4 linked regions of the Homo sapiens genome follow. The protein of the gene in region 1 interacts with the protein of each later gene in a pairwise test. Each region holds a gene or a part of one and is shown in the gene's direction. Other genes may lie near its edges.

What was found.
Region 2: the proteins of TMEM140 (region 1) and HSD17B13 interact in binary tests that used the Homo sapiens proteins (3 or more experiments, as listed by UniProt).
Region 3: the proteins of TMEM140 (region 1) and STOM interact in binary tests that used the Homo sapiens proteins (3 or more experiments, as listed by UniProt).
Region 4: the proteins of TMEM140 (region 1) and KCNJ8 interact in binary tests that used the Homo sapiens proteins (3 or more experiments, as listed by UniProt).

The regions. Positions count from the first base shown.
Region 1 is NC_000007.14:135,143,395-135,151,076, forward strand, and holds the start of TMEM140 (transmembrane protein 140), read left to right. Parts: upstream 1-4,677; 5' UTR 4,678-4,876; intron 4,877-7,682.
Region 2 is NC_000004.12:87,305,870-87,312,894, reverse strand, and holds part of HSD17B13 (17-beta-hydroxysteroid dehydrogenase 13 isoform A precursor), read left to right. Parts: intron 1-2,535; coding exon 2,536-2,652; intron 2,653-7,025. UniProt on the Homo sapiens protein: Plays a pivotal role in hepatic lipid metabolism. In vitro, it catalyzes the oxidation of a variety of lipid substrates, including 17beta-estradiol, retinol, retinal, and leukotriene B4.
Region 3 is NC_000009.12:121,367,234-121,374,585, reverse strand, and holds the start of STOM (stomatin), read left to right. Parts: upstream 1-4,335; 5' UTR 4,336-4,398; coding exon 4,399-4,459; intron 4,460-4,619; exon of another isoform or gene 4,620-4,693; intron 4,694-7,352. UniProt on the Homo sapiens protein: Regulates ion channel activity and transmembrane ion transport. Regulates ASIC2 and ASIC3 channel activity.
Region 4 is NC_000012.12:21,771,689-21,778,915, reverse strand, and holds the start of KCNJ8 (ATP-sensitive inward rectifier potassium channel 8), read left to right. Parts: upstream 1-4,209; 5' UTR 4,210-4,370; intron 4,371-5,229; 5' UTR 5,230-5,299; coding exon 5,300-5,673; intron 5,674-7,227. UniProt on the Homo sapiens protein: Inward rectifier potassium channels are characterized by a greater tendency to allow potassium to flow into the cell rather than out of it.

The DNA.
Region 1 (7,682 bases):
ACAACTGGACATCCACATACTGCAAAAACAAACAAACAAATCCAGATGCAGACCTTATTGCCTTCACAAAAATTAACTGAAAATGGATCACAGACCTAAATGTAAAATGCAATACTATAAATCTGGAAGATAACACAGGAAAAAAAACTAGACGGCTGAGGGTATGTGTAGGAATTACATGAGATATCTCTGTACCTTCCTCTCAATTTTCCTGTGAACCTAAAACCAATCTAAGAAATGAAGTGTTTAATATTGAATTTAAAAAAAAAATGGGCAGAGATCCAGCTCTAAAACAGCACCCTGAGAAGCTTCTCACCCACTCCCCAGTGGTGGGCAGGGAGGGGAACCTGGTAGAAATATTTTTTAGAAAAACCCATTTAAAGTTTTAAAAACCATTAGGAAAATTGTCCTAAGGACATACATCAAATAAAGACATATTTATTCAGAAAATTTACTAAATTCCTGTAAGAAAAGTGAGGGTCTCTGGTACTTAGCCATGGCCCACTCCTTCCCTTCCCCCATGTTCAGCAGAAGGGAAACTCCACTGTGGGAGGATATGGCCAAGAACACTGGGATCACAGTCACTCCAGCTCCCAGTCAAGGGCTATGGTATCTCCCCTAGGAGGAGAAGGCTGCCAGCGTTTCTCATCTCCCTACCGCTGTGAAGCAGAAACAACATTTGAGGCTAATGAGGCCAAGAGGTCAGGGACTCCCTTCCTCCACTCAACCATAAGGCAAAGGTTCAGTGGGCTGGGAATACTGGATTCCTGGTCACCTTTTCTCCAGCTACTTCATAGTGTGGAGTTTCCATGCCAGGAGAGTCAAGCTGAAGTTGAAAAGACCAGAGGCTACTACGCCACTCAGGACCATGCTCAAAAAGTAGATGGGTCACTCTAGAAGATGCAAGCCACTGTCACCAACCCCAGGTCCAGAGCAGTGGCTCAGATATGTTGCCCAGAGGAGAGGCATGCCTTAAGAACAGAGAGCTCTGAAGCTGTCCTCAAGTAAACTGACTTGTTTGGAACAGAGTGTGGGGAAGTTCAAGGTTAAGAGTACTGCCAAAAACAATGGAGATTTTGACAGTAAGCAATTAAGAGGAAATGAGTAGCTTGATAAAAGCAACAAGCTCAACCATAGGCCAGCTAGGTTGCCAGAGAACCAGTGAAAGAGACAGTAAGAAATAACCCTCTTGGAGTAAAAACAAAAAAAAGAAAAAGGGAAGATAAAGAATAAGAAAGAGGCCAGGCACAGTGGCTCATGCCTGTAATCCCAGCATTCTGGGAGGCCAAGGCAGGTGAATCCCTTGAGCCCAGGAGTGTTAGACCAGCCTGGGCAACATGGCAAAACCCTATCTGTACCAAAAAATTAATAATAATAATAATATAAAAATTAGCCAGGCATAGTGGCACGCACCTGTAGTCCTAGCTACTTAGGAGGCTGAGGTGGGAGGATCACCTGAGCACAAGAGGTCAAGGCTGCAATAAGCTGTGATCGTGCCACTGCACTCCAGCCTAGGTGACAGAGAGACCCTGTCTCAAAAGAGTAAAAAAAAAAAAAAAAAAAAAAAAAAAAAAAGAAGAGGAACAAAGAAATATTTTAGACCTCCAGTTAAAAATGGCAAACTGGATACACATTCAATTTTGCTCCCTCTCAAAACCACCAAAATAATTTATTTTTTAAGGCATAAAGCTGAAAGGATGACAAGAGGAGACCATTTTGGAAGCCAGGAAGCAGAACAAATTTAAACTTCTCAACAAAACAAGAAAGCCAGACATAATGGGACAAAGCCTTCAAAATTATAAATGAAAATTATTTTTAACCTAAAATTTTATATTCAGTCTAAATTTGATCACATTTGAATAGATCAAGTTAGAATGAAGATATTTTCAGTTTTGTAAGTTCTCAAAAAATTCTCTTCAGTGTACCCATTTCTCAGGAAGTTACTGGAGATTTACTCTCCCAGAACTGAATAAATGGAGAAAGAGAAATGCCTTTGATGCAGGAAGCAGGAGATCCAACCTAGGACAGAAGTAAAGGGAATCCCCAGCATGGTGGTGATGTGAGAAGCCAGGACAACAGCTGTGTGTGGTGTCAAGCCCCAGACTGGGGCAGGTTGGAAGGGTCTGAAAAGCCTTTCTCAGGAAGATATAGAATACTTGATGCATAGAAATTTATTCATAGAAGATTTGATAAAGATTTGAGGGTTGGATTAGTGTTAAGCAATAGAAAACCAAGCAAGCAAACAAACTTTTTAAAAAAAGCAATTATCTTCAGAGAAGATCAAAAGTTATGCAGGATAGGAAAAGTAATCTTAATTTTCTACATGGCTCAGCTGCTGTAAATGGTATTTACAGGCACACCTCGGAGATATGTTGCAGGTTCTGTTCCTGACCACTGCAATAAAGCAAGTATTACAGTAAAGCAAATCACACGAATTTCTGGTTTCCCAGTGCATATAAAAGTCATGTTTATACTATAAGGTAGCCTATTTAGTGTGTGATACTGTTATGTCTAAAAAAACCTAACGGACATACCTTAATTTAGAAATACTTTGTTGCTAAATAATGCTAACAATCATCTGAACCTTTGCCTTCACAACATAAGGCCTAACATTTGGCTTATCTTTGCTTTCACAATGCCTTCCTCACTAAGCTTAATCATTTCTAGTTTCCAATTTTAAATGAAAGACATGTGACACTTCCTTTCACTTAAACACTTACAGGCCATTGTAGGGACATTAATTGGCCTAATTTCAGTATTATTGTGTCTCAGGAATAGGGAGACCTAACGTGAGAGAGAAATGGAGGAACGTCCAGTTGGTGGAGTGGTCAGAACACACGGTCAGAACACCAACACAGAGTTGGTGGAGCGGTCAGAACTGAATTATCAATTAAGTTCACCGTCATATGGGTGCGGTTCATGGCACCCCAAAACAATCACAATAGTAACATCAAAGATCACCATAACCAACATAATAATAATGAAAAAGCTTGAAATGTTGCAAAAGTTACCAAAATGTGACACAGAGACATGAAGTGAGCAAAGGCTATTGAAAAAATGGTGCCAATAGACTTGCTCGATGCAAAAATGCCACAAATCCTCAATTTGTAAAAGATGCAGGATCCACAAAGAGAGATGCACAATAAAATAAAGTATACCTGTGCATATTCCAATATTGTAAACACTGAATATTGATTTAAACAAAACTATAACCAATTTGGATAGAGGAGGAAGAGAGGAAGCATACTTCTGGAACATGCAGTGGGGAAGAAGAAAGCTAAATCTTCACCTTTTATGGTTGGGAGTCAGTAGATTATGCCTGAAACTGAAAAATCAAGAAGTACCAATCCAAGCATGTTATTTAGAGAACTGAGGTAAATGCCTAAAGAATGAGCACAGGTGAAAGTGCTTGCCTCTGAAGAGGAAGAAAGGGAGAGTGTGGGACTGCCGATTTTCGTAAGTTTTGAAAAACTGACTCTTTGAAAACTAGGTACATGATAACCTTGAATAAATTTCATAAATATAAATATGTTTCTATCTCTTCTATATCACTTCACTCACCAGTATTGAGTTTTCAGAGTAACTACTGTATATTAGTATCTAAAAGTTAATTTTCTGTCTTAAAGGCATTAATATGGATGCTAGACTAAATATACAGAAATTCCACTTTTCATAATAATAGCTACCATTACTATGGTCCCAGTATTGTACTAAGCACTTATATTATCTCCAGTCCCCAGAGCAACCATGCAAAGTAGGTACTGTTTCCATTTTACAGATAAGAAATTGATGCTCAAAGAGATTAAATAATTTGCTAGTATGTAGCAGAACTCTCTGATCTCAAAGCCTCTGTTCTTCCTTCCTCCTGGATCCCATCACCTCTTTCTAGAGTTTGCGTTTAAAAGAACTAGGGGCAGGGGGAGGGCAATGTAGCAGTTCAAATAACTCCTCCTTTGGAGGAAGGGCAAGGAAGCAGAAGAGAACCGCTGAAGGATTCAGCAATAGCACTAGGTAGCAGTCTCATGTAACCAAGTTTAACCCACAGTTGAAATTTCCAGTTGGTCATGTGAGCAACGGAAGCAATTTTTAAACTCTGGCCAGGAGCCCCAATGCTTACAAAAATAAAAGCTTTGTTCGGCTCTTATTTTGAAATAAAATAGATGTTCCAGCTGCTCCAACATGGGCCTAAACACTGCAGTGAGAATGCTCAGGACACAAAGTTTTGTGTCCAGAGAAGCCCAGTCATCATTACAAAATTGATCTCTAAAAGGGGTTGGGGGACAGACGGCATAGCTGCTTCCCAAGGAAATGAGTAGGAGGTGACCTGGGTCCTGACTGCCACACTGGCTGGGAGCTTGGACCAGATGATCCTGATGGGTTTCTTCTGAATAAAATTCCGGGTTGTGTTTATCTTGCAGTTTAAATCACTGGGAGCTTCGAGAGTTCTTTGGCTCCTTCCCTTTCTGGAATTATTGTGTGATATAATCAAGACATTTACCTGGCTCTTTAAATCAGTTGGTTTGCCGGCTACAGTGTAGGTAAAGAGTATGTCATAATGGACAATAAAAAGTTGTTTACATACCTCATTTCTGAAAAGTCATGGGCCACTGGCAAGTTAGGAAACGAAAGTGAAATCAGCTGATAGTGACATCAGTCAGAACAAATGTACCAAAGTTCAGAGAGCTGTTTACTAGGCACGACTGCGAAGGCAAGGGGGCACCAGCTCAGGACTGCATCTGCCTGCCATTTCCCTTCCACTCCTCCTTTCTGGAGTCTGACATTAGAAAGCCAGCGAGAAGGAAGATTCAAACAACCAACCCTGATTTCCTGCTTCTCCTTTTCATGAGTGTTCCTGTGGTCTCTGCACCTCCTTTCTGTAAGTACCGATCCTGCAAGCATCACAGCTTACCCAGACGTCTACTACCTTGTAAGACAATTTTGTTTTCTTCTCAGATATTTCATGTTCTGGCAATCCACATAGGGGAACTCACTGGTTGTTCAGTATCTGTGACCCTCCCTCGCTCATGTCTGTATAATCTACATAATCTACCCCCTTTACTCTCTGCTCTCCTTCCTTCCACTCTTCGGCATCAACATGTGTAGCTCTGGCCTCAAAGATGATGAAAGTAAGGCCAGTATAACTGGTTAGAAACGATGCAGGGCTGACTGCACACAGCAGAGTCTTGCACGCAGTGTGTACAAGGACATGGCTGTGGCTTGTGCAATACACTGTTCATCAGAAATAGGTAAACAAAAGCAGGTCACCGACCAACACTAACTAAACCACTATTCAATGGTAGTTACGAACACATCATAAAACTTTAAAATACACACTGAAGATTAATATCAACAGAAAAACTTGTGTTCTTGCCTCAAAGAATGGGACCTAAGAGATGTTTAGATCTTATGTTAGTCATTAGACCAGATTGCTCCTCATGCCCCAGTGGAAATCCATGGTGGTATTTTAGTTCTCTTGATGCATATTTTAAGAGATTTTTTTTAATGTGGGCTTAGTTTCACTAATAACTTCCACTATGCTTCTTCGCCTATAAAATCAAAGGCTCCTTTGAAAGAGGGAAAAGACACATATTTCCTTCTTCCCTCATGATAACTGAAGAGCATTTTTCAGTATCCACTTACCATACCCCATTCCCCAAAATCTCAGGTCTGAGACTCAGTCCATGAGATATTTTTTCAATCTTGCACATATTCCCCTTTCTCAACTTTCTTTCCAGCTTAGTCCCTGCTTTATCTAATTACTAAGGCTGTTTTGAATGCCTGTTTTATAAATTTCTTTTTTTTTCATAAATGTAGCACATAATTCTAAAAATATTTTACTGCAAATAGAGAACAATTGCCTGTAATGTCACCACCCAGAGCTACCACAGCTAACATTAACATTTTCAAATACTTCTTTAGTCTCTTTCTCCTATGCCTCTTTATATGGATGTAGTCACACTATGTAGAGTGATTTTATACCTGCTTTTTCTAAAAGATGCATAGTATTTTATCCTTGATACATCATAGTTTACTTCTGATATTGGACTTTCAAGCTGCTTCCCATTTTGTGCCAAAAGTAATGCTGTGCTGAACATTCCTATGTATAAATTATTGACTGGATTTCTGATTGCTGTCTTAGGATAGATTTATAAAAGTGGGCCAAAGAGATATGACTATTTTTAGGGTTTTTAATGTTTATTGCCAATCTGCCTCCCTGAAAGTTTGTACAAATGTTCACATCCACCATCATTGTGTGAGAATGCCAGTTTAACCATATTTTTGGTATCATCAAGTGTTTTTACCTACAGTGTTGATAGGGAAACTCTGGTTTTTTACTTGGCGTATCTTTAATTACATTAGAAAAGTTACAGAATTTTTTTTCATGTTAGTTAACTACTTTGCATTCTTTGTGAATTATCTCTTCATATTTGTCCATTTTTAATGAGGTGTAATGTTTTTTGACAGTTTGCGTAAACATTTTAAACATTAAGTACATTAATCATTTCATAGTTGTGGTAGATATTTTCCATGCTCATTGACTTTTAATTATATTTATGTTGTTTTTGGTGAATAGAAATCTTTATTTTAGAATAGTTAAACCTGTGCAATTCTTTATTTGTAGTTTCCATTTGCTCTTAAGTTCCAAATTTTATTTTTCACTCATAAATCAAATATATCCTTTTTTCCAGATCATTGATTTTTTTATCTGGTTTTACCTTTCACTCTTGGATCCATGTGAAATTTATTTGGGTATGTGGAGTGAGATGAGGACCTAAAATAGTTTTGTTTCTCTTTTCTAGTTAGCTGATCAATTGCTTCAGTATTAGTTAATGAAGAACCCTTTCAGGACTCAAAACAAATATCTCTTCTGAAGAGAGGCTTTCCCTGACCCTATAATCTAGTCATCACTTCCTCCTGCCAGTTTCTCTCTCTCACTCACCCTGTTTATTTCTTTCCCAAACCTTTTCAAAAATTATAATTACCTTTTAAAAAATACATTTGGTGTTTGCCTTCCCAACTAGAGTACAAGCTCAATGAGAGCAGGCACCTGGTTTGTCCTGTGTGGCACTGATTCCCCAGGGCCTCTGATTCAGGGAGTCATCCAAAATGTGTCACTAACAGAGTTACAAGATGAAATGCTGACCCCACGAGTCGAAGTGGGTGGCAAATTGCCTTTGTAATTGCGGAAGAGAGGGCTGGTGCGGGAAAACTAACCATTGACAGCCAAAGGCAGTCACCAGTTTCTGGTACTACTGATTCTCAAACTCTGAATCTTGTGAATCTTGGCCGCCCACAAACTGGACCGTGGAGTCCTGCCAACAGAAACCAAATGAGATTAGCTGGACGTGGTGGCAGGAGGCTGAGGCAGGTGAATTTCTTGAACCCGGGAGGCAGAGATTGCAGTGAGCCAAGATGGTGCCACTGCATTCCACCCTGGGTGACAGAGCAAGACTGTCTCAAACAAACAAACAAATTAAGATGGCTCATTTGTAGACATTTTCTCATTTTTAAGGATTTTCTTCTCCCTCTAAACTTTTTGTAATCTTTGTTCCCACTTGGATTATCTGCTAGTGAGAGCTAATAGTCAACAAAACAATTGCACAAATAGCAAGTTAATATTAATGGAACCATTTAAACAGCTATCTCAATGGCTTGTCATCTGGGTGCCTGGACTCATGCTT
Region 2 (7,025 bases), on another chromosome or scaffold:
AGAGACGGGGTTTCACCATGTTGGCCAGGCTGGTCTCAAACTCCTGACCTCAGGTGTCCTACCTGCCTTGGCCTCCTAAAATGCTGGGATTACAGGAGTGAGCCACCATGCCCGGCCAAAAAAATAAGTTTTTAAAGAATTAAAGGTCATCCTGGCTAACACAGTGAAACCCCGTCTCTACTAAAAAACACAAAAAAATTAGCCGGGCGTGGTGGCGGGCGCCTGTAGTCCCAGCTGCGCGGGAGGCTGAGGCAGGAGAATGGCGTGAACCCGGGAGGCGGAGCTTGCAGTGAGCCGAGATCGCGCCACTGCACTCCAGCCTGGGCGACAGAGCGAGACTCCGTCTCAAAAAAAAAAAAAAAAAAAAAAAAAAAAAGAATTAAAGGTGTTAATTTTATTTAGAAGCCTTACTGAAGACTACAGTCGGAGGCCTATAGCCTGAGAGCAGCCCTTTAGAGAGGTTCAGTTGAACTGTTCTGATAGTGGGGGCCATGTGCTCTATCCTGTATTGTCTTCAAAGCATCTTTCCAGAGAGCTGCACATTGTCACAGAGTCAGGGACTTTGTGAAATTATGCTGACAACCAGAAGTGAGTAAACGTGGCTTCTTACATTTGCTACGTTGTCTCACAGTACTTAATAAGTATGCAATATGTAAGTAAATACTATAGTACTATTGCAACTCCTGATTGTTTTCTTAGACAAGGAATTGGGCCCAATAAAAACCCTCTTGGTAGGCATTCAGGCTTCGTGTACCATGAGCTTTCCTAAGGGTATCCTGCCACTCTTGGGGAAGGCATGATAGATGAGGGGAGTAAGGATAATGGAACTCTGGGTACAGGGTTCCTGGGGGCTAACTTAGAGGTAGACACAGGCAATGCTAAATATTTGGGATTGATTTTATAGAGGTTGCTAGATTGTGAATTTCCTTAGTAAGGGCTAAGGCATTGATATGTAATGTCACACTTGGCTCCGAGGCTGGGTTGTTGGATCCATGTAGATGAAATCAGGGAGAGAAAGGGCAGAACGGAGTAATTTAGAAATGTATTGATTTGTATTACTCTCTGTTGGCTTGCTATTCAAGGCAGTGGAGAACTCAATCACATAATAATCTGCAGCAAACCACAGATCATCCCAGGGAATGAAGTTTTAACATTCGCTGGCTCCCTAACTCCTCACCCAGCCTTTACATTCACTGGCTGTTCAGTCCATGCCTGGACATCTTAATTTGAATACAACATTTTAAATCCATTTTTCTGTCATCATCTTGCACTAACAGACAATTCTACACTAAGCCTATGTTTATGAATATTTCTCAAGAGTACATGTACACAGCCTTCAGTATAAGGAAAACTGGAAGTATGACATACCTCCAGTTGTCATACTCCTTGGGCCCCTCTTAAATTCTCATTAAACTGCAGGATAGGCAAGTCAGAGGTGAATCTCAAATACGAAATTCTTACCGGAAAGGGGTTCCAATCCAGACCCCAAGAGAGGGTTCTTAGATTTCTCGCAAGAAATAATTCGGGGCAAGGCCACAGTGCAAAGCAAAAGCAAGTTTATTAGGAAAGTAAAGGAGTAGAGAACAGCTACTCCATGGAGAAGAATGGCTTGAGCTGCTCCACCAAGGGTATTTAGAGTTACTTCTTGATTATATGCTAAACAAGGGGTGGATTATTCATGAGTTTTCCGGGAAAAGGGTGAGCAATTCCCAGAACTGAGATTTCCTCCCCTTTTTAGGCCATATAGGGTAACTTCCTGCCATTGCCATGGTATTTGTAAACTGTCATAGTGCTGGTGGAAGTGTCTCTTAGCTTGCTAATGTATTATAGTTAGCTTATAATGAGCAGTGAGGACAACCAGAGGTCACTTTCATCACCATCTTGGTTTTGGTGGGTTTTGGCCGGCTTCTTTACTGCACCCTATTTTATCAACAAGGTCTTTATGACCTGAATCTTGTGCCAACCTCCTATCTCATCCTGTGACAAAGAATGCCTTAACTTCCTGGGAATGCAGCCCAGTAGGTGTCAGCCTTATTTTACCCAGACCCTATTCAAGATGGAGTTGCTCTGATTTAAACGCCTCTGACAAAATGACGACCTCAAAACAATCCAGCTTTATGGAATACCTCCACAAGAAAGAAAGTATACTTAGCTATAGAATTTTCTCCTTGCATCCAACAGGCTTTGAGATGTCAGATGTTTCCTTCCTGTCCCATGATTAATCCTAGCCATTCCTCTTTCTTGTCTGGCTCCACTACTCCTTACCATCTAATGCCTCGCCACCATTTTGATATTTTGACTAAGTGAGCTATGAAACACACCTACTGGATATGAAAGTATAAGTTTCTGATAACAAAACATCAACATGGGATGTGGAGGAAGTGGGTAGGGTGGCATTAATGCAGCAAATCCTGGAATATTTTAAATCTTCATTCTAAATTTAGTAAAAATATAGGATAATTTTCCTGCCATCATTTACTTATAAAATTAAAATTTTAGAAAATAAAAATAATATTTTCCTCTTTTTAATCACAGATTATGGCCTGTATTGGAGACAGATGAAGTCGTAAGAAGTCTGATAGATGGAATACTTACCAATAAGAAAATGATTTTTGTTCCATCGTATATCAATATCTTTCTGAGACTACAGAAGTAAGTACAGCACAGAACACCCAAATACTAAAACACCAATAGAGCTTTTTTTTTTGCTTTTTTTTTTTTTAGACAGAGTCTCACTCTGTCACCCTGGCTGGATTGCGGTGGTTGCAGTGGCATGATCTTGGCTCACTGCAACCTCCGCCTCCTGGGTTCAAGCAATTCTCATGCCTCAGACCCCCAAGTAACTGGGATTATAGGTGTGTGCTGCCACACTACACCCAGCTAATTTTTGTATTTTTTGATAGAGACAGGTTTCCCCATGTTGGCCAGGCTGGACTCGAACTCCTGACCTCAAGTTATCCTCCTGTCTCGGCCTCCCAAAGTGCTGGGATTACAGTCATGAGCCACCATGCCTGGCCCAATAGAGCTATTATTATGGAGCATCTTTCAGTTGTGAAAATTGGCATGGAAACTCTCCATCCCTGGGGAGAACAGTTATTTCCTCTGTTATTTTCCTACCCAGTCTATAAAAAGAGAGTGATTCATTTTCTCTACCAAATCTACTGTCTCTGCCCAAACTTTGCTGAAGACTATTCTAACTAAAGGAAACACAGTTTAAAAAGAATGCAATATAGTGAAGTAGTTAATAATAAAGACTCCATTTTTAAAAGTCTGCTGGAAGTTTGGTTGGGATTGCACTGAATCTATAGAGCAATTGGGGAGTATTGACATATCAACAATATTGAGTTTTCTAATCCAAGAACATAATATCTATTTTTAAAATCTTCTTCAAAATCTTTAAATCTTTAAATTGTATTTTGTAGTTTTTGGTGTTTAAGTCTTGCACATATTTTGTCAGATTTATTCCAAAGTATTTCACGGGTTCTTTTTTTTTTTTTTTTTTTTTTTTTTGAGACAGAGTTTCACCCTTGTTGCCCAGGCTGGAGTGCAGTGGCGTGATCTTGGCTCACTGCAGCTTCTGCCTCCTGGCTTCAAGTGATTCTCCTGCCTCAGCCTCCCAAGTAGCTGGGATTACAGGCACCTGCCCCCTCGCCCAACTAACTTTTTGTGTTTGTAGTAGAGACAGGGTTTCACCATGTTGGCCAGGCTGGTCTCGAACTCCTGACCTCATGTGATCCACCTGCCTCAGCCTCCCAAAGTGCTGGGATTACAGGCATGAGCCATCATGCCCAGCCCTATTTGACGGTTTTTGACGCTAATGCAAGTGGCATTTTAAAAAATTTTATATTTCCCATTGTTTGTTGTCAGTATATATTGGATTTTTGTAATTTGATCTCATATTTTGCAGTCTTGCTAAATTGCTAAACCTCTTTTTGCTAAACTCGATAAGCTTTTTTTTTTTTGGTAGATTCCTGGGCCTCTAATTTTCTTTATGGGAAAGTTTTTAATTACAAATTTAATTTCTTTAATAGCTACATGGCTATTCAATTTACTTATTAATTCTTGGTAATGTGTGTCTTTCAAGGAATTTGTCCATTTCATCTAAGTTGTAGAATTTCTTTGGCATAAATTTGTACATAACATTCCCTTATTATCCTTTTAATGTCTTTAGAATGTCTTATTTATTTATTTATTTATTTTTATTATATTTTTTTGAGACAGAGTCTCGCTCTGTTGCCCAGGCTGGAGTGCAGTGGCACAATCTTGGCTCACTGCAAGCTCCGCCTTCTGGGTTCATGCCATTCTCCTGCCTCAGCCTCCCTAGTTGCTGGGACTACAGGCGCCTGCAACCATGCCCAGCTTATTTTTTTTTTTTTTTTTTTTTTTTTTTTTTTTTTTTTTTTTTTTTTAGTAGAGACGGGGTTTCACCCTGTTAGCCAGGATGGTCTCGATCTCCTGACCTGGTGATCCGCCCGCCTCAGCCTCCCAAAGTGCTGGGATTACAGGCGTGAGCCACCAAGCCCAGCCTATTTATTTATTTAGTAGAGACAGTCTCACTTTGCTGCCCAGGCAACAAAGGTTTTGAATGCCTGGCCTCAAGCAGTCCTCCTGCCTTGGCCTCCCAAAGTGCTGGGATTACAGGCATGAGCCACTGCACCTGGCCAAATGAATATGCTGATAATATCTTCTTTATAAGGATGACATAAGAATAAAATAATGTAATACAAACAAAGCCCCTGTCACTGAAAATGTATAGACTTCAAATGTTAAAGTCTTAGAGAACAGAATTTATATGAAATAGCAACAGCAACAATTTCCCAGAGGAAATACTCTCTCAGCTTTCTTCTGAGGAGCAGTTTCTAAATTGAAATTGTATCAGTGAGAAGATAACTATACTAACTTCATAAGCCTTGGGCCTTTTTGAAACAAATCCATATAAACTATGAACAAACTTGAAATAGAACAATTTGAGAACAGGGTACAAACTGCATTGGTGTATCAATTTCAGTATTTGGTTTTAGCTTAAATAGACTGACTTGAGATAACATAAGGAGAACCTTGACCCCCAAGCAACATCATCTCGCGAGTTGACTAGGCCGGGTGTGGTGTCTCACGCCTGTAATTCCAGCACTTTGGGAGGCCACAGCAGGCAGATCACTTGAGGTCAGGCATTCGAGACCAGCCTGGCCAACATGGTGAAACCTCAGCTCTACTAAAGATACGAAAATTAGCAGGCATAGTGGCCTGCACCTGTAATACCAGGCACTCGCAGGAGAATCCCTTGAACCCGGAAGGCGGAGATTGCAGTAAACCATGATTGTGCCACTGCACTCCAGCCTGGGCAACAGGAGACTCTGTCTCGGAAAAATAAATTTTTTAAAAAAATGAAAAAAAATAAAAGTTGACTAAATTAGTGTCTTGGTACTAAGCACTGTAGGAAGTGAGTTTCATGGAACCCCAACTCTCTTGGGGCCCAAAGCAAGTCATATTAATATTGAAAATTACATGCATATACATGCATATGACCAAGGTGATAAAAACAATTATTCTGCCTGAGTTGGAGAATAGTATCCCAGTAAAATAAACAAGAGTCTCAAAGTCTTTTGTATCCTTTGAAGCTGTCATGGTGGTTTGTAACTAGGCAACAGGTATATATTGTTAATCTTCTTTGCATTTAATTCCTTTTATAGAGAGACACAATTTTACGAGCAGATGCAATTACTAGCATGAAGGTTTCTTTGTGAGGGTAGTTAAAAGGCCCACATGAGCTCTCTTCTTATCCTTGTCCTTCTTTCAGCCAGATCTTCCCTGCCCCTTTGCTCATTCCATCTTTCACCCACCTACCCCCAAAACAAGGAAGTAAATCTTGCATTAGTCAACAATACCAAAGTGATTTTCAATATGACTTTCTCTGCAGAATGTTATTATTTCTGCCTCTTTACATTCACATACTGTCTTCCTTTTTTTTTTTTTTTTTTTTTTTTTTTTTAGATTGGGTCTCACTCTGTTGCCCAGGCTGGAGTGCAGTGGCTTGATCTCAGCTCACTGTAACCTCCACCTCCTGAGTTCAAGCAATTCTCCTGCCTCAGCCTCCTGAGTAGCTGGGATTACAGGCATGTGCCACCACACCTGGCTAGTTTTTTTGTATTTTTAGTAGAGACAGGGTTTCACCATGTTGGTCAAGCTGGTCTCGAACTCCTGACCTCATGATCTGACCACCTGTGCCTCTCAAAGTGCTGGGATTACAGGCGTGAGCCACCGGGCCAGCCACTCTCTTCCTTTCAGTTGCCTACTCATCTCTTATGCATTCCTGGACATCAGTTGTCCTTTTGAAGCTTTCCTCCACTATCCCAGCCCATGTGAATCCTCCTTCCAGTTATAGCCCTTAATTCTAGATGGCTGATATTTTTCAATAATTGTTTTAAGATGACCATTTTAGCCTATCAGCTAAACAATATCAAAGACAATAGCTATTTTTCAAGTACTTTAGTTTACCTTATTATAGAGTGCATAATAGATATTCAGTAAATAGTAAAGGAGAGGTGAAGGCTTGCATAGAATGGATTCTGGTGGTGTCTCTTGGTGAGCTTTTAGCATCAAGATTAATCAGCAGTTTCAGCAATGAGCTCAGACCTTCAGTTTTAGATCTTTACTCATATCAGATAAGAGAGTGAGAAGAGTGGTATGTATCAGTGCTTTATTTATATTTGCATCCAATTTGAACTATGAATATTACAAAGGTGCACACATAGGTTCAGACAGATTGATTTAAAATGACCAAAGATGACCTGTCGTAAGCAACCTGGGTATCTTAAGATGCACTCCTTGGAGAGGGAATGTTCCTAAAAACATTTTCAGAGGGACGAACTGTATGAAATTCAGTAAAACATAAATCATGAGGAAAACTGATTACTCTCTTTTTGACATGAAATGAGAGTTTTAATGCATGGTTACGATTATTAACGTACTCCGCTGCAAGACGTTAATAAAGTTACTGTTTTGCAGGCTAGAATGTCTTGATGCTG
Region 3 (7,352 bases), on another chromosome or scaffold:
TGCTTGAACCCAGGAGGCAGAGGTTGCAGTGAGTCGAGATCATGCCATTGCACTCCAGCCTGGGTGACAGAGCAACATTCCATCTAAAAAATAAAAAATAAAAATAAAAAATAAAGGAAATATGGAACATCTACTCTGATTTTCAAACTATATATAAGTATCCTTCAAATAACAACTAGAGGAAAAATTCACCAAAATTGTAATAGCAGTTTTGTTAGAGGTGATAAGAAATTCTCTCTTCAAAGTACTCACAATTTTATATGTCTCCATTTAAAAAGCATAATGTTATTTATTTATTTATTTTATTTTATTTTTTGAGATGGAATCTCACTCTGTTGCCTAAGCTGGAGTGCAGTGGCATGATCTCCGCTCACTGCAACCTCCGCCTCCCGGGTTCAAGCAATTCTCCTGCCTCAGCCTCCCAAGTAGCTGGGATTACAAGCATGCGCCACCATGCCCGGCTAATTTTTTGTATTTTCAGTAGAGGCGGGGTTTTACCATGTTGCCCAGGCTGGTCTCAAACTCCTGACCTCAAGTGATCTGCCTACCTCAGCCTCCCAAAGTTCTGGGATACAGGCATGAGCCACTGCGCCTGGCCATAAGGTTCTTTAAAAAAAATCATTCTAACTTCTAATCATTACTGGGAGAAAATTTAAGATTAAAAATCCTCCAAAAGGAGAAAGGGATGTACTAATATTTGTTTTTTTCTAATCTTAAGAGTGAGAAATTGATTTTTAAAGTACATTTAATCAATACATTTATAACAGAATATGCACGAGAAAGCCAGAATACACCAATTTCATGGGCAAGTGAGAGTAAGCATATTTAAATAAAAAATTGGAAACTCTATTCTAAAAGCAGTTTAAAAATCAAGTCAAAGCTTGTTCTTAGTTTAGGGCCAGGAATTAGTTTTAGAACTGATGCAATCTGAAACCAGAGCCAAGAAGTGTTTACCAAAGTCTTTACCCCAAAGGGAGACACTTCTAATTCTCCAGAAGGGACACTACACTGTTAAGATTGTCTTGAGACTTGGGCTTAGGTAACTGATAGGGGTACACATATTAAATTCATTTTGAAATACCATTTTCCTTTCCAACAAAAATGAAACCTAAATCCTTTTTCACAATATGCAATTTGTAATCAAGGCCTCCTCTACCGAAGGGTTTAATTAGTTTCTTGTGTATTTGCTCCTCTTTCCTGGGAATGACAGGATAAACGGGAAGTTTATGTCTCCAGGGCTTATTCGTTACAGAATGGAAAAATGAAGCTATGGACTTTCTCAAGGATGATTTAGAGAGAAGGGATCATTAAATTACTGTACTCCCCTCCTTATCTTCTCCAGAAGGCTAACAAAGTGACTGCACAAGCTGCACTCCATCCCAGGAATACAAACAGTTCTTGGCCAGTATTTGACTAAAAGTCAACTGCAAGCTCTGAGTCAGGTTTTGATCACACACTGGAGCCTGTTCCTGCAAGCAAAGATCATCTTAATGCCTCTCTTAACACCTGTTGTGTCTGCTCCCGTTTCCGTCCTGATAGTCACAAAGCTCCAGAGCTGTAAAATCAGAGAGAAAGTCTACCATTTCATATGACCTAAGCACCACAAGGTGTTGGGTAGTACACAGCCAAATATTGAGCACATTAAGAAAGAAGTGCTCCTCCTGAGGGAGATCTTTGTGGTAATGGAATAGTTCTGTATCAATTACTGTGGTTATATCAATCTACACATGTTAAAATGGCACAGAACTATAAATACATTTTGTGCCACTGTCAATTTCCTGGTTTTGATACTCTAGTTAAGTAAGACGTAACTATTGGGGGAAACTGGGTAAAGGGGACATGTGACCTCTCTGTACTGTTGTTGCAAATTCCTGTGAATCTGTACTTATTTCAAAATCGAATGTTTTTATAAGTGCACCTTGTGTACATTAACATACTTTGAACATTGTGCAATAGAACAAGTCTAATGCAAACACAGCCTACTTTCCAAATATGAGGTCTTCAGCCACACCCCAAGAGAAGGCCTGAGGTTGGGAATGCCCTTGCACATGCTTTTCCCTCTACCTGGGATACCCTTTCCCACCTCCTGCACCGCTTATTCCCCTTCCCCAGGCTGGCTCCTTCTCATTTCTCAGGCGACATCTCAAAGCCCCTTCCTTACAGAGGTGTTCCCCTGTCCTAACCTTTGCTGTTCTCCGAATATTCCACTCCTTTCACAGCTTCCTTCACCATGTGTAATGATTCAATTACTTGTTTGTGGCCCATCTCCCAACTAGAGTATAAGGTAAACTCCACGAGGCCCTTAGCACACTCCCTGCCACATGGAAGATGCTCCAAGAAGATTTTGTTTGAATAAATGACCCCACCGACTGAATGGACTCCCTTGTGGCCAAGGGGACTCCAGAAAACTTTAAAACTGAGTTCCCAGCCAATGACAGGACAGAAGGTCAGACTCGCCTCATTATAACTTCATCGTATTGGAGTTTAGACACAACAGCTGACCAGCATTAACGTTAAAACACAGATCATAAGACTGACAGAACAGACTGTTTGTGACAATAAGATACCAAATTATAAACAAATTATACCTAAGGTCATGCCAGGCAAAGGTTAAGGCACACATCCCTTCACTTAGAGAATAAACTGTGTTCTAACTGCCACAAGGTTGTTCTCTTTCTCTAGCAGCTTAACAAGCACTGGCCTCGAGATAAGCAATATTAAAACAATTTGCAGCTCCACCAGATGTGGCCTAATGGAACCCCTATTCCACCAGCCATCATTACAGCTTTAATTGGACAAGAGGCTGATTTCAGTAACTTTCTCCTCATAGGAAAACTACCGACCATGGACTGGCTCTGGCTAGTTTACACAGACTGCATACTTGCACACCTTCCTGTCCTGAAAAGACCTTTTGACGCATGGGGTCTAACTGTAATACATGTATTGTTATTATTTTTTAGAGTCCATCAGGCTGGAGTGCAGTGATCTGATCATACATCACTGCAGCCTCCAACTCTTGGGCTCAAGTGATCCTCCTGCCCCAGCCTCCTGACTAGTTGGGACCGCAAGCACACACCACCCCACCTGGCTATTTTTTTTTTACTTTTTGTAGAGATGGGGACGTCACCATGCAGGCCAGGCATTTAACATTTAATTGGTAACTCTTCACTCCAAAATGAACATGGGTTGTATGTTACATGCATGTTTGCTCAATGGGCATGCGTCAGGACCACCCTCATGAATATTCATAGCTCCTCCTGTCACCTGCTGAATATGCATGTCTACCCAAGCTGTTCAGCATAAAGCCGCTACTCCAACCCCTCCTCCAACGAAATGCCTGTCTCTGGTCCTGGCCATTCTCCAGCCTGCGGAATGGCCACCTTGCAGGCTGTAACCCCTTACAAGAAATAAAGTCTCCTCTCCTGTTTTTTTGTTTTTTGTTTTGTTTTTTTGAGACGGAGTCTCGCTCTGTCACCCAGGCCATCTCGGCTCACTGCAACCTCTGCCTCCCAAGTTCAAGCGATTCTCCTGCCTCAGCCTCCCAAGTAGCTGGGATTACAGGCGCGCGCCACACGCCCGGCTAATTTTTGTATTTTTAGCAGAGACGGGGTTTCACCATGTTGGCCAAGCTGGTCTCGAACTTCTAACCTCAGATGATCTACCCGCCTCGGCCTTCCAACGTGCTGGGATTACAGGCGTGAGCCACCGCGCCCGGCCTCCTCTCCTTTTCCAAATTTATACATTTTGATTTTCTTAACACACCTCACTCGAGTTCGTTCACTTCGGCTGCGGCGTGATCTGCCGGCCCTCTCAGCTCAGGCTGACCTCAGCGCCCTCACTTCGGCCACTTCTGTGTCCCTCAGTCTTCTCCCCTCAACTCGGACCTCGCGCCCTCATGACAGGGCGCCATTTTCTTCCCTCTAACTCCTCAGCCCAGAGGAGGCGCCTTGGTCCCGTACCTCTGCCCGGCAAGGCGACTTTTCTTCACTTGCACTTTTGCCTCGGGTCATCCTCTGCTGCTACCTCCCCACTATCCTCACCATCTGCTCCACGTCCCGTGGCTTCCGCCCTCCCTTCCGGTGCAGGGCCCCGGCCTCATACCCACAGCCTTGGGGGCTCTCGCCCCTCAGGCCACGCCCCTCAGGCCACGCCCCTCAGCCCACAGAACTAGCGGGAAGTGACTGCGAAGCAGTCGCGCCGTGGAGGGACAGGAGGGCGGGGATTGGGAGGTGGGTCCTCCTCGATCCTGGGCGTTGATTGGCCAACTCTCACGAGGGCGGGACCTCGATTGGGGGCGGGGCGGCAATCTGGGTCTTGTGCCTCTGGCTCCTCAGGGCATTCCCGGCGGCTCCGGGTTTGGCAACGAGGACGGGGGAGTGCGACTGCGTCTCGGGCAGCATGGCCGAGAAGCGGCACACACGGGACTCCGAAGCCCAGCGGCTCCCCGACTCCTTCAAGGGTGAGTCCCGCGTCCCCTGACCCTCCCCCGTGGACCGAGCCCCCGCCCGCAGCGTGCGCTCCGAGGTCTGACAGCCGGGCTCCTGGCCAGTCTCCGCTGCTTCGGGCTGGGCGAGATCTCAAAGCCGCGGCTCCTCCCTAGTAAACTGAGCATCACGAACCCTGTTTGGCAGACTGAGGTCACGATGGAGGGGTGGCGGGCTGCCAACGGCACGTTTCCCATCGCACGGGCCCTGGTTATCTCGCGGCCGCCAGATGCCAAGCCCCATGCCAGGGCTGCACTATCTCGTGTCACGCACGCGGACTAGGAAACGCAGAGGGAACTGGCAGCCAGCGAGGCGGGGACCGGGACCCCACATCTCACCCTTTGCCCACTCCCCTTCTTTCCCGACTCACTCTCTCGAAGGCCGCCTCCTCCACCCAGCCCTGGCCTGGCCCCAGGGTGAACCCCCTCCTCCCCCAATCCCACCTCCCGAAACTTAGACCGATTTGCAGAAGGAAGAAGTCTCTCTGGCTTTCTTCTTACCTCTCTTTCTAGCTCCACTTTCTGCCCCATTTTTCCCCCTCCGCTTTCCTCTGCGTTTTGGAGAACTCTCCTTCCCGGCTTTTGTTCCTCGCCAGGAACCCTGAGTTCTCCCACCCTCACCCCCACCCTCCCTTCCCAGTCTTCAAGGCAGGAGCTGTAAGTGGCTCAGTCTCGTTCCCCTGTGGAGGAACTGGTACTCTGGGGAGGGGGTTCCAATAAAGAGAGATGGTGGACCTCTCAGGAGTCCTGGTACCCACTCAGGAGCTCTTAGTGATCCAGAGGAATTACAGTGTTTCTAAAGATGGAATTTCAGGCAGGATGGCAGTGAAAGCAATTTAGAGGGCTGGGTGGTCCTTTCCAGGACCCCTCAAAGAACATGACATTGGAGTCATCTATTCTGATTATTTGTAAAGCCAGCTTTATCCACAGCATCTTAGCTATAAGTTCCATTTCCCTTGTCCAGGGATCCCTGTGTTCAGTTCCTTCCCAGGAGCATCAAAGGAATTACAGAAATCTTTATTCCTCACTTTTTGTCTACTAATAACGTTGCAGGTTATCTTCCCAAATGGAGAGTGTAACAGGGAGGAGTTGATGAGAATAATGGCAACCACAACAACAAAAATTGAAACTAAATAGGTCAGGCTCCGTATCACTTTTTTTTTTTTTTTTGAGACGGAGTTTCGCTTTTCTTGCCCAGGCTGGAGTGTGATCTCCGCTCACTGCAACCTCCGCCTCCCGAGTTCAAGTGATTCTCCTGCCTCATCCTCCCAAGTAGCTGGGATTACAGGCGTGCACCACCATGCCCAGCTGATTTTGTATTTTTTGTAGATACAGGGTTTCACCATGTTGGTCAGGCTGGTCTCAAACTCCTGACCTCAAGTGATCCACACGCCTCGGCCTCCCAAAGTGCTGGGATTACAGGCATGAGCCACCGCGACCCCCCCAGTGCCACGTATTTTATGTATATATTATTTTATTGAATCTTCACAACAGATGATGTGGTAGGTATTCTTATCCCCATATTATACTTGATGAAACTGATAGTCAAAGAAGTTAAATTACTTAAAGTCACTTAGTTTGTATTTAAATCTAGATTTGACTGATTCTAAAACTTGAATAGGGAAAAAATGGGTGGTAACTGCCTCTTCGATAGTTAGTTGTCTTTTCCTAGATAAAAAGGTGGGTATTAGCATGCATTCCTCAATACCCTGACCTCCTGGTGGGAAACTGCAGTGGCAAATCTGCTTGGAGTTCTTTGAGAATCAACATGATCTTTGTACTTAATGTTTATTTACAGACAAGTGGTCATAGATGAGTTTTTAACTTCCAGTTTTTTTCCTTGGTTCTACACTTAACTACTGTTTAGACAGAAATCTTTCAAGATCTAATGAAAACCACCACTTCCTCTCAAAAATTAGACATACAAATAAAATTTTGCATAGTCTGTGTTTTTTTAATGTAAACCTAACAAATTTGACGCTACTAGGAAAGGTATTGCTGGAATTTATTAAATAGAGGTTATTGAATGCTTTCCCTGTGCCAAAAGACAGTTTAAGTGCTTTACAAACATTATCTAATTGCATTCTGTAACAGCTCTACAAGGAAAAAGTCATTATTCACCATTTCACAATAAGGATACTGCGGCTCACATGGCAAAATCACAGTTTCTAAAATTTTCAGCCCTGTTTCAAACCCCGGCTATCTGATTTTCTGAATCATTTTCCCTATCCCAGAGATGGATACCAAAATGTAGAACCTTGTCTAACTTCAGTACTTTACTTAAGTTGAGAGACAATAAACAAAAAAAGCCTGGAGGAACACAGCTTCAGTGATGACTTCCAGAAGGCTGCTTGTGAAAGAAGCAGTGGAATTTTAAAAGCCTAAACTCTGCCTCTTTGTCTTTACTGAGAATTAGTCCTAGGTAGGTAAATAGCACCAGGCCTAGGGCAAGACTAGTTTTTCTTAAAGGCGATGCATTCACTTTGTAATGAAATAATGCAAGTAATTGCAAAGAATGTATCACTGTAATTAAGAGCCATGTCAACAAATAAAACCCTTTGGGAGACTGATTGTTTATTTCAGTTGTTATAGCCAATCAGATTGGAGAGAACTTTGTAACTTCTTCAATAATTAATCTGAGTTATTCCATCAGTGGTCATAAATTAACTTATGGAAGACCAAGTCTACAAAACTGGCATATTTATTCATGATTAAATAGATTTTTGGTGCCATTTGATGGTATAAATTTTACCTAGTAAAAGACAGTCACTGATTCCTAGTCATCTTTGAGGGAAAAAAAAGATGTTGATAAAGTGATACAGATGGAATTCAAAATCAGTTTTTTTAAGAAGGCATGGAAAAGCAATTT
Region 4 (7,227 bases), on another chromosome or scaffold:
TGAAGTCTACAAGTCATGTCAAAGGCAAAGTCAACAACTGGAAGAATTTCACCCTTGCTCTCAAGGGTACTTTCAGAAACTTCACTGATTTGCATTTGGTAATCAAAGCAGCAGACAATTAGGAAAAGCATCAACCTAATATTTTCTCTACTTGTCTAAAGGCACTTGACAAGCTTTGTTTCTTAAGAGAATGAGAATGTCAGAAACCCAAAGAAAAATGCTCATAGGGTCTAAAAGGAACCTGGCAGATGCTGACTTACAACTGAACCAAAATCTTTTAATTGCTTTTTAATTGCATAAATTTCTGCAACATGAGTAAATTCTAACAGGATTCCTGCATACTCAAGAAAATTATAATAGTAAATAAAATTAGCTGTGTTCTAAACTTATTACTGATATCCTCTGGTAGTGTGCAAATTAGTCTTCACTCCTGAAAGAACAATTAAGAAAATTATTGAACAGTTAAGAAAATATACCTAACTTTTAGTGGACAACAGCATATAGTGATTGAATAAGCAGATGAATAAAATAAGCCCTAAGTAGTAAATGTGCTCTTGAAAATTAATTGATTTTTTTTTGCCAATTTCTCAGCCAGAGGCAAATTTAAATGTTCACTGTTTGGACCATAATATGAGGGAGAGCTAGAGGTCAGTCAATAATAAATATTTATTGAGCAGTTACTATGTGTCCAGAAAGACTTTTGGGGGATAGAGGTATATGTCAGTTAAGCTTAAAATCAAGTTGTAAAGAGAAACTTAGCTAGCAAATGCCAGACAAGTTTAAGTATTGCTGACTTAGAGCAATTAGGGAAGTTAGGGAAGTTGCTAAAGAAGGGAGAAATGGATAATTTTGCAGGAGTGTCCAATCTTTTGGCTTCCCTGGGCCATATTGGAAGAAGAATTGTCTTGGGTCACACATAATGTACAATAACACTAACGATAGCTGATAAGCTAAAAATCACAAAAAAATCTCATAATTTTAAGAAAGTTTACGAATTTGTGTTGGGCAGCATTCAAAGCTCTCCTGGGTTGCATGCAGCTCGCGGGCCACGTGTTGGACAAGCTTGATTTAAAGGTAGAGCAATATAGTAAAGAGAAAAGTGAGAATAAGAAAATTTTTGTAGACAGCTATAGAAACAGACTTCAAAGTGAATTCCAAAAGTTCACATTTCCTATGTGGGTTCTGAGAAATAGTTGCAAAACCATGAAGGGTAGAGAGAGATGAGAGAGAAAATGCAAGAGAGAGAAATACCATGTTTTGAACACTATTCCTACTTCTTTTCATTTGACAAGTATTTATTGAGTACCTACTCTTGGGATCTCGGAACAATTTGAGACCCTGGGTGTGTGGTGATATTAAACAATGTGCTCTCATGCAGCTTCCACTTAGTGCAGAAAAACTAGTTGAAGGACAAAGACATACACTGCTTAAGGAAACAATGTAGAAAGGGAATACAAAGAAAAATATATATCTGTAATATTCTTATAGCACACATTCTTTACCATTTAAAATGATTACTATTTGTTCTTAGGCCTACTATTGTCAAACATTTACTTATTAATTTCTTCAAATTTGATCTTTATTATGTGCCCTGATTTTGAATCAATCAAGTTAAATTACTGACTAATAAAAATATGACATTCTGTTATGAAAGCAAGTTGAAACGATTTAAAATTGCGTATTTGGAAGAATACATCTCAATGAAAAAAAAGAGTCTGAAATATGTATTATACCAAAAGAACAGAATTTTCAGAGAATTCAGATATGGATTTTTTTGTTGCAAATCTTCTCATAAATTCTCCACAGTACTTCAGCTCTTCTCATTCCAATTTTCTTATTATTTTTCTGTTACTATGATAAACATCACAGTCACCTCTGACTTTTCCCTTTTCCAATATTGACTCTGTATAACATTCCTTTTGTATGTATTTGTATAGTGCCCACTGATGTTACCTATTAGCCCAAGACCTCATTCCTTCTCTAATTAATGTAACAGTTTCCAGCACCCTCTTCTGCCAGTTACAGAATTTTGGAGCCCAGAGGGACTATACTCAAGAAATGCAACCCTTAAAGCCATTATATTCTCTGCTTCTGGATCAATCCTCTTAAAACAGGCTCTTATTGTGTAGTTTTCTGATCAAAATCTTTCCATGGCTTACCACTACATACTGAGGACTCCTCAGCTTCTTTTGTTGAGCATTTAAGGCTGTCTATGCATTTTTTAAGGCCCCAATATGCTTTTTCAACTTTGTATTTTTCATTCATTGATTCAAAAATATTTTTTGAGCCCATTTATAATTTAAATGGTGCTAGGGCCTTGCTACAAAGATGAACAAGTCACAGCCTTGCCCTCTAGCAGTCCCCAGTTTAAGGGAGGGGGTACAGGAGTGGTGGGAATGGGTGTGACGAGTACATGAAAATCTCATTAAGTATTGAGAGTAGGTGGTAACAGCGCCTGCCCAGGGAGCACTGAACTCAAGTGTCCAATCCTGCTGTGTAGCCAACTTGGCTTCATCAATGCTGACGTGGGCTGTCTTTTCTCTGCTTTTCTGTATACCCTAAATATATCTAGGCTTACAAAGCCTAGATCAGATGCCAAATAATCCATGGATTTTTCCTTAGTCTCCTACTCTTAAATATCTCTCATTTGAATTCCCATGACATTTTAAAATTTCCTTTCCTATTCTAATCACATCCCTGCTTGTATTAGAGAATATCTCTCTTACTACAACTGTCTGCCTCTTAAAAGCAACAACTATGACATATATTTATATATCTCTAGACACATAAACCTAAAAAAAGCTTACAAAGGTGTTCAGTAAATGTTCCCCAGGCTAAAATAATGAATAATAATGTGTACAAAGTCAAAGGTAAAATAGAACAATGGCGGGAATTGACTATACAAACTGATTCTTCATAGACTTGTAAAACTATTATACTACATAAATTACTGCAAAAATTAATGACAGTAGAAAGGAGGACTACCACTAACAAACTAGGATCCTGGGCTTACAGGGGTTAAGGAGATCTAACCACAAGGAGAAAAAAAAAGTTCTTAATTTGCCTTCATTAAAGACTAATTTTAGGTCTTTGGCTAATTAAATGAATACATTGTTTATGCTCCATACACTTTCGGCTCGAGTCTTGGAAAATACGTGGAACTTCCAAGAATTAAAGTTTCCATTAACGCAAGTGCCAAAATCAGGAGGCTTGACCTGTGGGAAAAAGCACATTTGTCTTCGCTGGCTCCTTTTCAAAAAGCTATAGATGTTTATTGTATAACCTTTTTTGTGCGCAAATGCTGTTTTATCATTCAGACCCATCTAGACAGAGGAAGAAGCTGCAACATTTCAGAAAGCAACCAATTACTGAGGACCGAATGACCTGGCCTTATCAGCGCTGAAGTGTTAACGGCCGTCCCTGTTTGGGGTAAAATTTCTTCATTGGGAGCCAGTCAGTGGTTTCTTTTTTTCTTTCTTTTCCTTAAGGGGCCGGGGGTGGTGGGGGGCAGTCGCTGTTTTGAGGTGTGTGTGTGTTTAATTCCCTGAGAACTGGCTTTGGCTGGTGAAGAAATACTTTACTATAGTGGGTTTCAGAACATCTTCCACCTGTATCTCTCCTAGCAGGTGGAAATTTAATGTAAATAATTGTGTGTGCCCACAGCTTGAACGCTTTGGAAGAATATTTTCTGACCTCTCTGCTTTTATTCAGTCCGAAGTAGCCCAGTTATCATGAAGTAGCCCAGTTATCTACCTAGATTACAAAATAAAATTAAAATTAAATCTCCTTACGTCAGTGAACTTGGAGTCAGAAAGTTCTCTCCCCTGAGCAGAGAGCCTTTTAAAGACTTGTGTGTCACGCTGGCGGCAGGGGGTCGCGGCTACTGGAAAGGAGCTGGCTCTGCAGGTCCCGCCCTCCCCCGGGTCGTCCCTCCCTCTGGCCTGCTCCCTACCTCCCGGGGACTTGCGCTCGCCCCCTCCCCGCCCGCCCCCTACTCCGCGACAACGTCGGCTTCCGAGGTCTGGCGTGCGTCAAAGCCCTAACTGGGAGGCTGATTTGTGGAGCATCGCCCCCCCGCCCCCGCCCCCCCAGTCCCTCCTCCTTCCACTGAAGTGGCCAAGGGAGTTGAGCTGAGCAGGGGGAGGGGAAGATCTACACCCATCCCCCTTCCTCTAGCCCTCCCTGCGTTTAGATTCAGTTGCACCTTTTATTATTTTAACTCTTCTCCTTAGGACACGCAGCCCCCAATTTGTCCCTCCGGCCTGGGCGGCCCCTGGTCCCGCGCGCCAGCATGGGAGAGCGAGGGACCTGCCCGCGGCCCGCCGGCGTGTGCAAGGAGGTCCAGCCGCCGCGCCCGCTACCCGGAGTCTGTAAGTTTCAAAGCTGCTCCGGGGGAGCGGAGGGGGGAGGCTGTCCGTGTTCCCGTAAATGATTTAAAATGCAAAACACCGCAGAGGCTTGCAGTGATGGATGGACTTTTCGGGGCACACTCCCTACTGCAACCCGCAGGCTGTTGTCTTGGGTTTTTTCCCCCCCGCACCTTGTATATTTGATTCCTTCGTTGTAAAAAAAAAAAAAAAAAAAAGTTTTCAATTTATAATATTATGATTTCCACAGGAACCTTTTTAACTCTTTTTAGATGCAACTCATACTTCTTTCGCATTTAAAATAATTCTTATAACTTATAAATTCTATAGCACACCACTTATTATAATTTTGTCAGATTACACGTTATTTAGACTGCGCAAGGAGTCATGGCCTTTGCTTACTTCTAAAAATAACGGAGGAAGAATTTTCTCTCTTTACTTTTAATATTGCTACATCATCTAAGTACTTTAATAAGTAGATCGTGCACCCAACTGGTCTTAATCTTCATGACTGACGCCACGTGCTGTAGCCTTGCACTAATTTACAGACGCGGTTAATCGCAGAGAATTATCTTTGAGCCTGCTGTTTACCGGAAGGCTCCTGGTTTTGTTTAACTAAGGCTATGTCCATATGTACTCAGAATAAGAAAAATTGAAACAGTTCTTTTTATTAAAACCAAGTAATTTTTCTGAGATCCCAGAACTCAAGCACAAGCTAGATTCATGTTTGGGTTAGTAAAAATCACATTTTTGGTTTTGCATGTCACCTCGCACATGTACAGACATATCCTTGAATACAAGGACCCAAGAGGTGAGGATAGGGTGGGTTTTTAAGTTTTTAATAAATGTTTCCCTCGTGCAGGAGGACGGGTGTCCAGGGACGGAGAGGCAGGTGAGAGGGAGGTGGCTAAGCTGGCTATGGTGACAGGACGATGTTGGCCAGAAAGAGTATCATCCCGGAGGAGTATGTGCTGGCGCGCATCGCCGCAGAGAACCTGCGCAAGCCGCGCATCCGAGACCGCCTCCCCAAAGCCCGCTTCATCGCCAAGAGCGGGGCCTGCAACCTGGCGCATAAGAACATCCGTGAGCAAGGACGCTTTCTACAGGACATCTTCACCACCTTGGTGGACCTGAAATGGCGCCACACGCTGGTCATCTTTACCATGTCCTTCCTCTGCAGCTGGCTGCTCTTCGCTATCATGTGGTGGCTGGTGGCCTTTGCCCATGGGGACATCTATGCTTACATGGAGAAAAGTGGAATGGAGAAAAGTGGTTTGGAGTCCACTGTGTGTGTGACTAATGTCAGGTAAGAATGTAGTGGGATGAGGCAGGGGTTGAAAACAGTAGAGAAAAAATGTCAAAATGCCCTTTCTCTTATCATTCTGTTATTTAATTGAAAGTGAAATAAAGGGTTTGTTTTAGAATCTTCAGAAACAAAAAAGCACAATAAAGAACAACACCTAACACAGTAAGTATTTTTTAAATGCAGCTTTATGGAGAAGAGTCTCTGAAAACCTGAGCTTCAGTCCTTTGGACTAGCCTTGAAAATGTTATACCAGTTATCAAAAAAAAATTGTAATTCAAAGGATTACACAGAGTGCTTTACTCCAAAAGCGCACACATTGAGTTCAGTATGAAAAAGCTGTTGTCCATAGTTTCAGTGCCCACAGGTAAATATCTCTGATCAACAAAAAATATTGTGCTAGTGGACATTTTTCTTGACTCTTCTAACCCATGACATTTTCAGAAATAATAAGAAAAAAATGGGAAGGCCCTAGGGGGAGAGTGTCCTAGATTAAAAATCTACTAAAAAATGAAATAAATATCATCCCTTCTTTATCGAGATTATCATAACATAGCTGATTGCTTGCACTGGATTCAGAAATTAAAAGTTATGCTAAGATTCAGAACTAGAAATTGCTAATTTTTAATGACAATTAGTCCAAAATTTTATGGAAGGGGTTATATAGAAGCAATTTAATTTTGTACTCTTCTTTCAAAGTTTAAATAGAATAGGGACAAGATAGTTCTTAGATTACCTAACTTTGGCTTCTTTCTCATATCATAAGTATCTCAAAGACAGGTAAATTGATTTCAGTGATTCACCTCTCTTGCTTTCACATGGTTTAAGAACATTTAGTTGAGGTGATTTCTTTGTTTTTTTCGGGGGGAGGTGGAAAGAGATAAATTATATCAATTACCAAGATGTTCACTGTGAAGCAAAAGAGTAGTAATAATACTGGAAAATTTTCCAAAACATTTTTAAAAGAACATTTTAAATTCACATAATTCACAAAGCAAAGAAACTTGAAAAAGCATTATGATACCAGGAAACTGTAAAGAATGGGACCTCTAGTGACCCTGAAACCTTATTAAGCTAGCATATCACTGCAGAAAGTGGACCCCAGACTGTGAACTTGTCCACCCTTCCATTTGCTAAGGAACTACAATGCCAGCCTTTCAAGGAGGAAGGCAGCATTAGTGCGCAGAGATCACACACCACAGATTTCAGCTCAAATTCTGAGCAGCAAAAACTGTATTGAATTGATCTATTGCTTTTAATATTGATTAGATATTATTTTCTTTTTTCAAACTTCTCACAAACTGTTGTCTCAAAGAAAATGCAGCTGGAAAACATAGATCATCAGTATACCAGATATAAAGAAAACACAATACTTAAAATATCCGTTAAAACGTTCAATAGATACTCTAAGATCAAATATCATTATCTATAATATATATCTTTAAGAAACTTACTGGCACTGATAATTGGTGAATCATTTTCATATCAAAATAAAGTTTTAATCTAAATTATATGATACTGATAAAAAGAGAAAAAAGAAATGGTAACAGCAAACCT